Regions from separate parts of the Homo sapiens genome. Here region 1 is linked to region 2. The links come from fine-mapping of genetic effects on gene expression. A gene starts in region 2. The other region holds a variant in brackets. All regions are shown on one strand. Distances are between the middles of the regions.

What was found. PIP is the estimated chance that this variant, and not a neighbour inherited with it, causes the effect.
Region 1: its variant is the best candidate, but not a certain one, in a credible set for the expression of CFAP144 in iPS cells (iPSCORE, PIP 0.74).

What each region holds. Positions count from the first base shown.
Region 1 is chr1:43,104,933-43,110,312 of GRCh38, reverse strand. No RefSeq gene overlaps it. Among named protein-coding and RNA genes, the nearest start is that of CFAP144, 40 kb to the left of the region's middle. The variant T/C (reference allele first, on the strand shown) is at 2,345.
Region 2 is chr1:43,145,740-43,151,119 of GRCh38, reverse strand. CFAP144 (cilia and flagella associated protein 144) reads right to left here and starts at 3,216. Exons shown (of 4, transcript NM_001101376.3): 1 at 3,036-3,216; 2 at 300-359. The coding sequence starts at 3,168.

The DNA of each region.
Region 1 (5,380 bases), 41 kb after region 2:
AACATCCCTCCTTCCTCTTTGCCTTCCCTGCTATGATTGTAAGTTTCCTGAGGCCTCCCCACCCATGCTTCCTATATAGCCTGCAGAACCATGAACCAATTAAACCTCTTTTCTTTATAAATTACCCAGTCTTGGGCAGTTCCTCATAGCAATTCAATAACTGACTAATACAGAAATTGGTGCCAGGAGTGGGACATTGCTATAAAGATACCTGAAAATGTGGAAGTGGCTTTGGAACTGGAAAACGGGCAGAAGTTGGAACACTTTGGAGGACTTAGAAGAAGTCTGGAAGATGAGGAAAAGTTTGGAACTTCAGAGAGACTTGTTAAATTGTTGTGACCAAAATGCTGATAGCGATATGGACAATGAAGTCCAGACTGAGGTGGTCTCAACTAGAGATGAGGAGCTTATTAGGAACTGGAGTAAAGGTCATTCTTGTTATGTTTTAGCAGAGACTGGCAGCATTGTGCCCCTGCTCTAGGGATCTGTGTAACTTTGAACTTGAGAGTGATGATTTAGGGTATCTGGCAGAAGAAATGTCTAAGCAGCAAAGTGTTCAAGATGTGGCCTGGCTGCTTCTAGCAACCTATGCCCATATTTGTGAGCAAAGAGATGATCTAAAACTGGAACTTATATTTGAAAAAGAAGCAGAGCATAAAAGTTTAGAAAATTTGCAGCCTGACCATGTGGTAGAAAAGAAAAATCCATTGTATTAGTTCTTTTTCATGCTGCTGATAAAGACATACCCAAGACTGGACAATTTACAAAAGAAAGAGGTTTAATTGACTCAGTTCCACATGGCTGGGGAGGTCTCACAATCATGGCAGATGGCAAAAGGCACATCTCACATGGCAGCAGACAAGAGAAGAGAATGAGAGCCAAGTGAAAGGGGTTTCCCCTTATAAAACCATCAGATCTCATGAGACCTGTTCACTACCACGAGAACACTGTGGGTGAAACTGCCACCATGATTCAATTATCTCCCACTGGGTCCCTCCCACAACATGAGGGAATTATGGAAGCTACAATTCACGATGAGATTTGGGTGAGGACACAGCCAAACCATATCACCCATTTTCTAGGGAGGAATTAAAGCCAGGCTGCAGAAATTTGCATAAGTAAAGAGGAGCCAAATGTTAATAGCCAAGACAATGGGGAAAATGCCATAAAGACATTTCAGAGACCTTTGCAGCAGCTCCTCCCATCACAGGCCCAGAGGCCTGGGAGGGAAGAATGGTTTTATGGGCTGGACCCAGAGCCCCACTACCCTGTGCAACCTCAGGATGCTGCTCCCTATGTCTCATCTGCTCCAGCTCCAGCCATAGCTAAAAGGGTCCCAGATATGTCTCAGGCCACTGCTCCAGAAGGTGCAAGGCACAAGCCTTGACAGCTACCACATGGTAAGAAATTTGTGGGTGCACAGAGGGCAAGAGTTGAGGCTTGGGAGCTTTCACCTAGATTTCAGAGGATGTATAGAAATGCCTGGAGGTCCAGGCAGAAGTCTGCTGCAGGGGTGGTGTGCTCATGGAGAGCCTCTACTAGGGCAGTGCAGAGAAGAAATGTGGGATTGGAGCCCCCACACAGTCCCCACTAGGGCACTGCCCCGTGAGAAAAGGACCACCATCCTCCAGATCCCAGAATGGTAGATCCAGTGACACCTTGCACTGTGCACCTGGAAAAGCTGCAGGCACTCAATGCCAGCCTGTAAAAACAGCTGAGGGGGGCTGTATCCTGCAGAGCCACAGGGGCAGAGCTTCCCAAGGCCTTGGGAGCACACCCTTTGTATCATTGTGGCCTGGATGTGTGACATCAAGTCAGAGGAGATTATTTGGCAGGTTTAAGATGTGATGAGTGCCCTTCTGGGTTTTGGACTCGCATGGGGCCTGTAGACCCTTTGTTTTGTCTGATTTCTCCCTTTTTAAACAGGTTTATTTATGCAATACCTGTACCCCTGTTGTATCTTGGAAGCAACTAACTTGTTTTTGACTTTACAGGCTCATCAGTGGAAGGGATTTACCTTGTCTCAGATGAGACTTTGGACTGTGGACTTTTGAGTTAATGCTGAAATGAGTTAAAATGTGGGGGACTGTTGAGAAGGGATGATTGGATTCTGCGGTGTGAGAAGGACATGTGATTTAGTAGAGGCCGCAGGCAGAATGATATGCTTTGGATTTGTGTCCCTGCTGAACTCTCATGTCAAATTGTAATTCCCAGTACTGGAGGAGGGGCCTGCTGGTGGGAGGTGACAGCGTGCTGGCAGCCCTTGCAGCCCCAAAGCTCACTCTCGGTGCCTCCTCGGCCTCAGTGCCCATTCTGGCCATGCTTGAGGAGCCCTTCAGCCCAC[T/C]GCTGCACCGTGGGAGCCCTTCTCTGGGCTGGCCAAGGCCAGAGCCGGCACCCTCGGCTTGCAGGGAGGTGTGGAGGGAGAGACACGGGCAGGAACTGGGGCTGCGCGCAGCACTTGCGGGCCAGCTGGAGTTCCGGGTGGGCGTGGGCTTGGCGGCCTCACACTCAGAGTGGCTGGCCGGCCCTGCTGGCCCAGGCAGTGAGGGGCTTAGCACCTGGGCAAGCAGCTGCCGATGGTGCGCCGGCTCCCCCAGCAGTGCTGGCCCACAGCGCTGCGATGGATTTCTCACCAGGCCTTAGCTGCCTCCCCACAGGGCAGGGCTCGGGACCTGCAGCCCGCCATGCCTGAGTCTCCCACCCCCCATCCACGCCCCCGCCCCCCACCACCCCCACACCCCCCCATTCCCCACCACCCACCACCCCCCCGCCCCCCCACCACCTCCCACCGCCCCCCTACCCCCCACCACCCCCTGCCCCCCGCCCCTCACCACCCCTCTGCCCCCCTCCCTCCCCCGTGGGCTCCTGTGTGGCCTAAGCCTCCCCGACGAGCACTGCCCCCCACTCCATGGCACCTGGTCTCATCTACCACCCAACGGCTGAGGAGTGCGGGCGCACCGCGTGGGACTAGCAGGCAGCTCCACCTGCGGCCCTGGTGCGAGATCCACTGGGTGAAGCCAGCTGGGATCCTGAGTCTAGTGGGAACTTGGAGAACCTTTATGTCTAGCTAAGGGATTGTAAATACATCAATCAGCACTCTGTATCTAGCTCAAGGGCTCAAGGTTTGTAAACACACCAATCAGCACCCTGTGTCTAGCTCAGGGTTTGTGAATGCACCAGTCTGCACTCTGTATCTAGTTAATCTGGTGGGGACTTGGAGAAACTTTATGTCTAGCTAAGGGATTGTGAATGCACCAATTGGCGCTCTGTATCTAGCTCAAGGTTTGTAAATGCACCAATCAGCACTCTGTGTCTAGCTCAGGGTTTGTAAATACACCATTTGACACTCTGTATCTAGCTAATCTAGTGGGGACACGGAGAACTTTTGTGTCTAGCTCAGGGATTGTAAACGCACCAATCAGCACCCTGTCAAAACGGACCAATCAGCTCTCTGTAAAACATACCAATTGGCTCTCTGTAAAATGGACCAATCAGCAGGATGTGGGTGGGGCCAGATAAGAGAATAAAAGCAGGCTGTGCCAGCCAGCAGTGGCAACCAGCTCCAGTCCCCTTCCACACTGTGGAAACTTTGTTCTTTCACTCTTTGATATAAATCTTGCTGCTGCTCACTCTTTGGGTCCACACTGCCTTTATGAGCTGTAACACTCACTGCGAAGGTCTGCAGCTTCACTCCTGAAGCCATTGAGACTACGAACCCACCGGGAGGAAAAAACAACTCCAGACGCGCCGCCTTAAGAGCTGTAACACTCACCACAAAGGCCTGCAGCTTCACTCCTGAGCCAGCGAGAACACGAACCCACCAGAAGGAAGAAACTCCAAACACATCCACACATCAAAAGGAACAAACTCTGGACACGCCGCCTTTAAGAACTGTAACACTCACCGCGAGTGTCCACGGCTTCATTCTTGAAGTCAGTGAGACCAAGAACCCACCAATTCTGGACACACTGGGAGGTGATTGGATCATGGGGGCAGATTTCCCCCTTACTGTTCTCATGATAGTGAGTTCTCATGAGATCGGGTTGTTTAAACATGCTTAGCACTTCCACCTTTGCTCTTTTCCTCCTGTTCTGGCTATGTAATATGTTCCTCCTTCCACTCCACCTTCCGCCATGATTGTAAGTTTCTTGAGGCCTCCCCCACCCATGCTTCCAGTACAGCCCATGGAACCATGAGCCAATTAAACCTCTTTTCTTTATAAATTACCCAGTCTCAGGTAGTTCTTCATAGCAATGTGAGAACTGACTAATACAGACTCCCACCTCACATAATATATGAGAATTACCTCAAAATGGATCAAAGATCTCAATGTAAAAGCTAAAAATAGAAAGCTCTTAGGTAGCTGGATGTGGTGGCATGCACCTGTAGTCCCAGCTAGCTGGGGGCCTGAGGAGGGCAGATTGCTTGAGCCCTGGAAGTCAAGGCTGCAATGAGTTGTGTTCATGCCACTGCATTCCAGCCTGGGTGGCAGCGGGAAACTGTCTCAAAAAAAAAAAAAAAAAAAAAAATATATATACACACACACACACACACACACACACACACACACACACACACACACACACACATATAAATGACATAAAATAAAGCTCTTAGAAGAAAATAAAGGGTAAATCTTCATGGCCTCAGATTAGGCAATAATTTGTTAAATCTGACCCAAAAGTACAAGCAAAAACAAACAAACAAAATAGACAAATTGGATTTCATCAAAATTAAAACTTTTACGCTGCAAAGGACACCATCAAGAAAGCAAAAAACCCATAGAATGGGAGAAAATACTTGCAAATTATATATCTGATAAGAAACTTATATCTACAATATACAAAGAACACTTACAACTCAATAAGGAGACAAATAAACAAATGAAAAAGTAGGCAAAGATCTGAATAGACATTGTTCCAAAGAAGATATGCAGATGTCCAGCAAGCACACGAAAAGATGCTCAACACCATTAGCCTCCAGTAAAATGCAAATCAAAAACACCATGAGATACTACTTCACACCATTAGAGAGTGTGGGGGAATTTATCTTAAACATGCTTGTTTACTAATGTTGACAAGGAACTGATTTTTGATTATCCATGTGCATAACACACCCTGGAAGGGGAACTACAAATGTTAATTACCTACAGGTTGTGTGGGCTCCAGGTTTTCCACACTGTGCCTGCACTGAATAAAAGCAAGCAGTTCCAGCTTCTCAGGGCTGCTCTCTGGCCACTAGAGCCAGGCAGTCACTTAGCTGCTCTTACACTGCATACCTGTGTCTGAGTACTCATTTCATCCATCGGGCAGGGTCTGTGGGACAGACACAGCAGCAAAAGAGGTGAATATTGTAATTCAGAGGTCTGGTGCAGTGGCTT
Region 2 (5,380 bases):
GATGAATGAACGAAGGCAATGTTAAGTCAATAGGAACGTTAGTTGGCTTGACAGTTATAATTGAGTATGTCCATCTTTTAAAAATTTTATTTAAAAAAATTTTTATTTTTTTTATTCTATCTACCACAGACTGTCTGAGTATCCGTCTTTTTTGAGCTTGGTTAGTATGAGTCCCATTTCCAGGATCAAAGCAGAGGACTCTGATGCTTGCTCCAAGATATCACGACCCTGAGAGGTCTCTCCAGCCAGCCTGCCTCTCTGGGCTCTATCTCAATGGCATTTCAAAGCCCAGGACTTACCATCTGCAGGTTCCTCCAGGTTATCATGCCAAGACATGGGCTTCCTGGTGACTGTATGAACTAGAAAAAAAGAAAACAGCTTCACAAGTTCAGATTAAAACATGAGTTCCCTGCCCTCTCTAAGGTCCACCTTAAACAGGGCACCCATTTGGCACTCACTGAGTATCTGGTACATGCCAGGTATTATCCTGGGTGCTAGGATAATGCACGATTGGATAAGGCCCTCAAGAACCTCACAATCTAGAGTGGCACTGCCCAGAATGGTGGTCATCAGCCACATGTGGCTCCTTGAATTTGAATAACTAAAATTAATTACAATGAACACTTCAGTTCCTTAGCCACGTTAGTCACACTTCAAGTGCTCAATAGCTGCAGGCGGTTAATGGCTACAGTTTTGACTACAGCCAAGACAGAGAACATTTTCATCACTGATGAATTCTCTTGGACAGTGCTGGCCTATGGGGAAGGCCAAAGAGGTTTGCCAGGCAGTGATCTATGCCCAGGAGGGCACATGGTAACAGAGGAGCAGCACCCACATTCATCCACTCAGCTCATAATTACTGTGCACTGAAGAACAGGCTGTAAACAAGACAGAGCTGGCTCTTGTGTCCCCTGAGCTTTTACTCTATTTGTGGTGACAGGCAATAAACATACATATATCACCCGGCAAATGTAAGTGTGATAGAGAACAGTAAAGCAGGTTACGTGGATGGAGAGTTGGCGTTGGGGCTGGGGTGTGGGTGATGTATCTCTAGGGAGATACATATGAGCAGAGTTTTGAATGAAGTGAGGGAATGTGCTGTGTGTGTGGGAAGCATATGAGCGTGAGCCTGGGGAGTTTGAGAAACGTCAAGAGAGCCAGAGTGGCTCCAGTGGAGTGAGCTGGATGGAGAGTAGTGGGAAATGAGCAGACACCAGTAGAAACCAGTGGTCTCCAAGCTGCTTGTCTCAAACTCCTATCAGTAAAAGAACTTTAGAGCATGCGCCCTTAAAATATGTATAATTATATAGTTTTTATGGACTATTATCAGTATATTAGCAAATAAAATTTCTATCTTTATAAATAAAAGTAATCAATACAAGTTGTAATATTTTCTCACTTTATTCCAATGGCTCACATGCTCAAGGGACATGAGCTGGGAGGCAGCATTTTCCCTAGAGAGCATGAAGGTTGCCTGAAGAGATTATTTCCATTATTTGGAATGGACCGAGTTTGAACGGCTTTGGACACTAATTTGCTTTCCTGAAACTAGTGGTTGGGGACTCCAGAAGAAAACCAAGTTAGTTAGAAGGAAAGTGAAGACAGTACATTTTCTCTATAGAGCCAGGCAACAAAGTGGACTTTACATATTAGGCACAGAGTTGGGAGAGGCATTCAGGAAGAAGCAACAATGTTTATGCAGGTAAAGTGGGAAATGACATGATGCATTTAGGAAATCCATGTATTTAGAAATGGCAGGGGGGAAAGGAGTGTGTGTGGGATTCGTCAGCAATGGCTGGTGCAGAGTAGGCACCAAAGTATTTCTTAAAGGAGCAGGGTAAAGTGGGGGAGAGGAGTATGGCATGAAGCTGGCAGGAACCAGAGCCAGATCCAATGCGCCTTATGTCGTGATTGATTTAAACTTTACCTCAGAGGCTATGAGAAGGATTTTAGGTGGGATTGATGTGATCTAATTGTCCTCCTAGCATAGTGCTAAGCTAGCAAAGGTGTAGGGGTTTGGTCGGAGGGGCCAGCTTGGAGGGAAAGAGAATAAGGAGTTGGGAGCCCATCAGACCAATCCAGGCGGCAAGGACTAGGGCCCTGCAGAGGCTTCAGGAGTGAGGATGCAGGCAGAGGCTGTTTGAGGTGCTACTTAGAGCATGAAAGTACCTGAGCAGAGGCAGAGAGGAATCCATATGCATGATGGTGTCTTTCACTGAAGCAGGAACAAGTGGGTCAGGGGAGAGGAATGTTAATAAACAGGACTTGTGCCTTTTTTTAAGTGTGTGGAGGGAGAGAGACCTTGAGGAGGACTCCGAGGCTTCTAATGATCATGAGATCATTAGATGATGAGAGTGAATGATTCTGATCATGAGAGTGAATCATCCGGGGCCTTTTGCAGAGACAGGGTATTCTGGAGCAGCAGAGAGTGGGGAAGGTGGGAATGAGCCTGGCTTTCCTCCTGCTGGGTCTGAGGTGCCTGTGGGTTGTCCAGGGAGGGGAGCTGTGAGGTGGTTGGGCGTGTGGATCTGAAGCTCCATTTCAGGCCCAGTGGCATTCAGGGGAAGCTGGTGTGACAGGACAGAACAAACTGCCCAAGGAGAGTGCTCAGTGACAAGAGTGGAGGGTAGGGATGTTTTATCAGGGGGCACCCCAGAACTTTCCGAAGGGCAATATCAGAAGCCTGAAGAAAAACCTTTCACTTGTTAAAAACAACCCAAAATACAAACAAAAACAAAACACAAACAGCCTGCAAAATATAATTATTTCAAAAGTAAAATAATAAAAAGCCCTACAACTTTTTTTTTTCTACAACGAAAAGATTTAATCGTGTTGCGCATGAACTTTAATACAGCGAATACATCTGATATGATGTGGCCTCTCCAAAGTCATGGTTCCTGAAATCTAGGAAAGGGGGCGGGTGCTGGGGAAAGAGTTTTTGCTGGGACCGCGTTCCCACCCCGCAACCCGGAGGGCTCCTCCTTCCCCGGCGCCCTCCCGCTCTCGCCCTTCCCCCACCCCGCCGTGCCTCTCACTCTTGCGGAGGGGATTCACGTGATACTGCGTGTAGAGTTTCTGGGTTCGTAGCTCCTTGAGGTACAGTTCCCGCAAGATCTGGTTCTGATGGACCTCATCTGGAATCACCTTCTCTTTTGGGTGTCCCGCCATGGCCTTGGGCTGCCACGCGCCCTCTTGCCTGGGCCTTCCACAGTCTCCAGGCAACGCGTCCCCGCTGTCTCCAGGCAACGGCGTCCCGTGGTCTCCAGGCAACAGCGCTCGGGTAGTGCTGCCCGGTCGGGGCGGGTCTCACTCTGCCAGCCCCTTACCCTGCCTGCATCGCCCCGCCCCGCGCCCGCCGGTCGGGATCTTATTTCGCGCCCCGCCCTATTCTGGCACTGTACTCACTTGCCCCAGCTCCTCAGGCCCGGCTGGTTACTAGAAGGTCCCCTGGATACCGCCAGGAAAGGGCTTCCCGGCAAGGGGCAGACCCAGGAGGTAAGGGACAGATGATTGGACCTCACCTTGGCCAATCATTTCCTAAAAAAGCTTTTGGAAGGAGTCAGAAACCTCTCCCACCTTAAAGCAGATGCCCAGAATCAAAACCTCACAAAAAAACCGGAGGTTTCCTCTCTGAGAAAACGTTCTGGCCAGTGTGACCAAGATTACCAATGTGATAATATTGACAGAATAAACCTTTCCTAATTAAGGAACTTGTTGACTTTATAGTTTATTTTTAATGTTTGTGTTTAAAATGCACGTAATATAATTTTACCATCTTAGCCATTTTTAAGTATTACAGTACAGTAGTATTAAGTATATTCAAACTATGTGAAACCAATCTCCAGAACTTTTTCACACCCATTAAACAACAAGTTTCCCTTTTCCCTTCTCTCCAGCCCCTGGCATTTCACTTTTTGTTTCTATGAATTTGAGTCTGCTAGATACCTTAAATAATGTAGTTTATTTTAAAAGAATCGCCGAGCACGGTGGCTCACGCCTGTAATCCCAGCACTTTGGGAGGCTGAGGCAGGTGGATCACCTGAGGTCAGGAGTTCGAGACCAGCTTGACCAACATGGTGAAACCCCATCTCTACCAAAAATACAAAATTAGCCAGGCGTGATGGCATATGCCTGTAATCCCAGCTACTCGGGAGGCTGAGGCAGGAGAATCGCTTGAACCCGGGAGGCGGAGGTTGCAGTGAGCCAAGATTGCGCCACTGCACTCCAGCCTGGGGGACAGAGCGAGACTCCTTCTAAAAAATAAAAAATAAATAAAAAGTAGGTCTAGCATAAAGAAAGAAGCCACCCCTATTTTTAGTAAGCACCTAAATACTGTCTGAAGACTGTGCTCTTCCCCACTCAGTACTTCATTCATTCATCCATCCATTCATTCGCTCAGGACACAATGTGAATTGCAGAATGGGTTTAGTCTGGGACACAGTGTTGAACAAAATTTTTAATTGGATTGTTTATCAATTTGTTGGAGTTCTTAATATATTATTTTGAGGGCTGTACATGCTGCAAATGTATTTTCCCTCTGTGTGGCTTGCCATTTTAGTCTCTTAATGGTGTCTTCTGGACACCAAAAGTTAAACGTAGTCAAATATATTAGTCTTTTCCTTTATGATTATTGCTTCTTAATTTTCATTTAAGACATCTTTTTCTAATTTGATGACCTGAGGTTACTTTTATGTTACTTTTTAGAGCAGTGCTGTTCAATAAAAGTATGAGCTGAGCCACTCATGTAGTTTAAAACATTCTAGTATCTGCATTAAGAGAGCAAGAATTAGATAAAACTAATTTTAATAATGTGATATTTAACTCAGTATATCCAATTTGTCAATGATTCAACGTTTGAATATAAAAATTATTGAGATATTTTACATTGTTTTGTCCTACTAATGTTTAAAATCCAGTGCAGATTTTACACTTCATAACACATCTCAAGAGCTCCATGGCCATCTGTGGGCAGAACTATTAATATTTAAGAGGATTTGTTGTTTTACCCTTTCTCAGTGAGATCTGTATTCCACCTGAAATTGGTTTTCGAGTGCAGTGTGAGGTAGGAATCCAGCTTAATTTTTTCTTTCCAAAGGAGTATCCAGTTGACCCACCAGCAAATTATTGAAGAGATAGTCCTTCCTCACTGGTCTGCTATGCTACTGTGTCCATAAAAAAAGTGTCCCCATTTGTGCAAGTCCATTTCTGGACTCTATTCTGTGCCATTGGTCTATTTGTCTAAGCTTGCAACAGCACTACACTATCTTAATTACCATAATTTATGTAACACATTCTAATATCTGGTAGGGAAGAATGTCTTCTCAAGACAGTCTTGCCGCTTCTTGGCCCTTTGTATGTCCATATAAATTATAATGAGCTT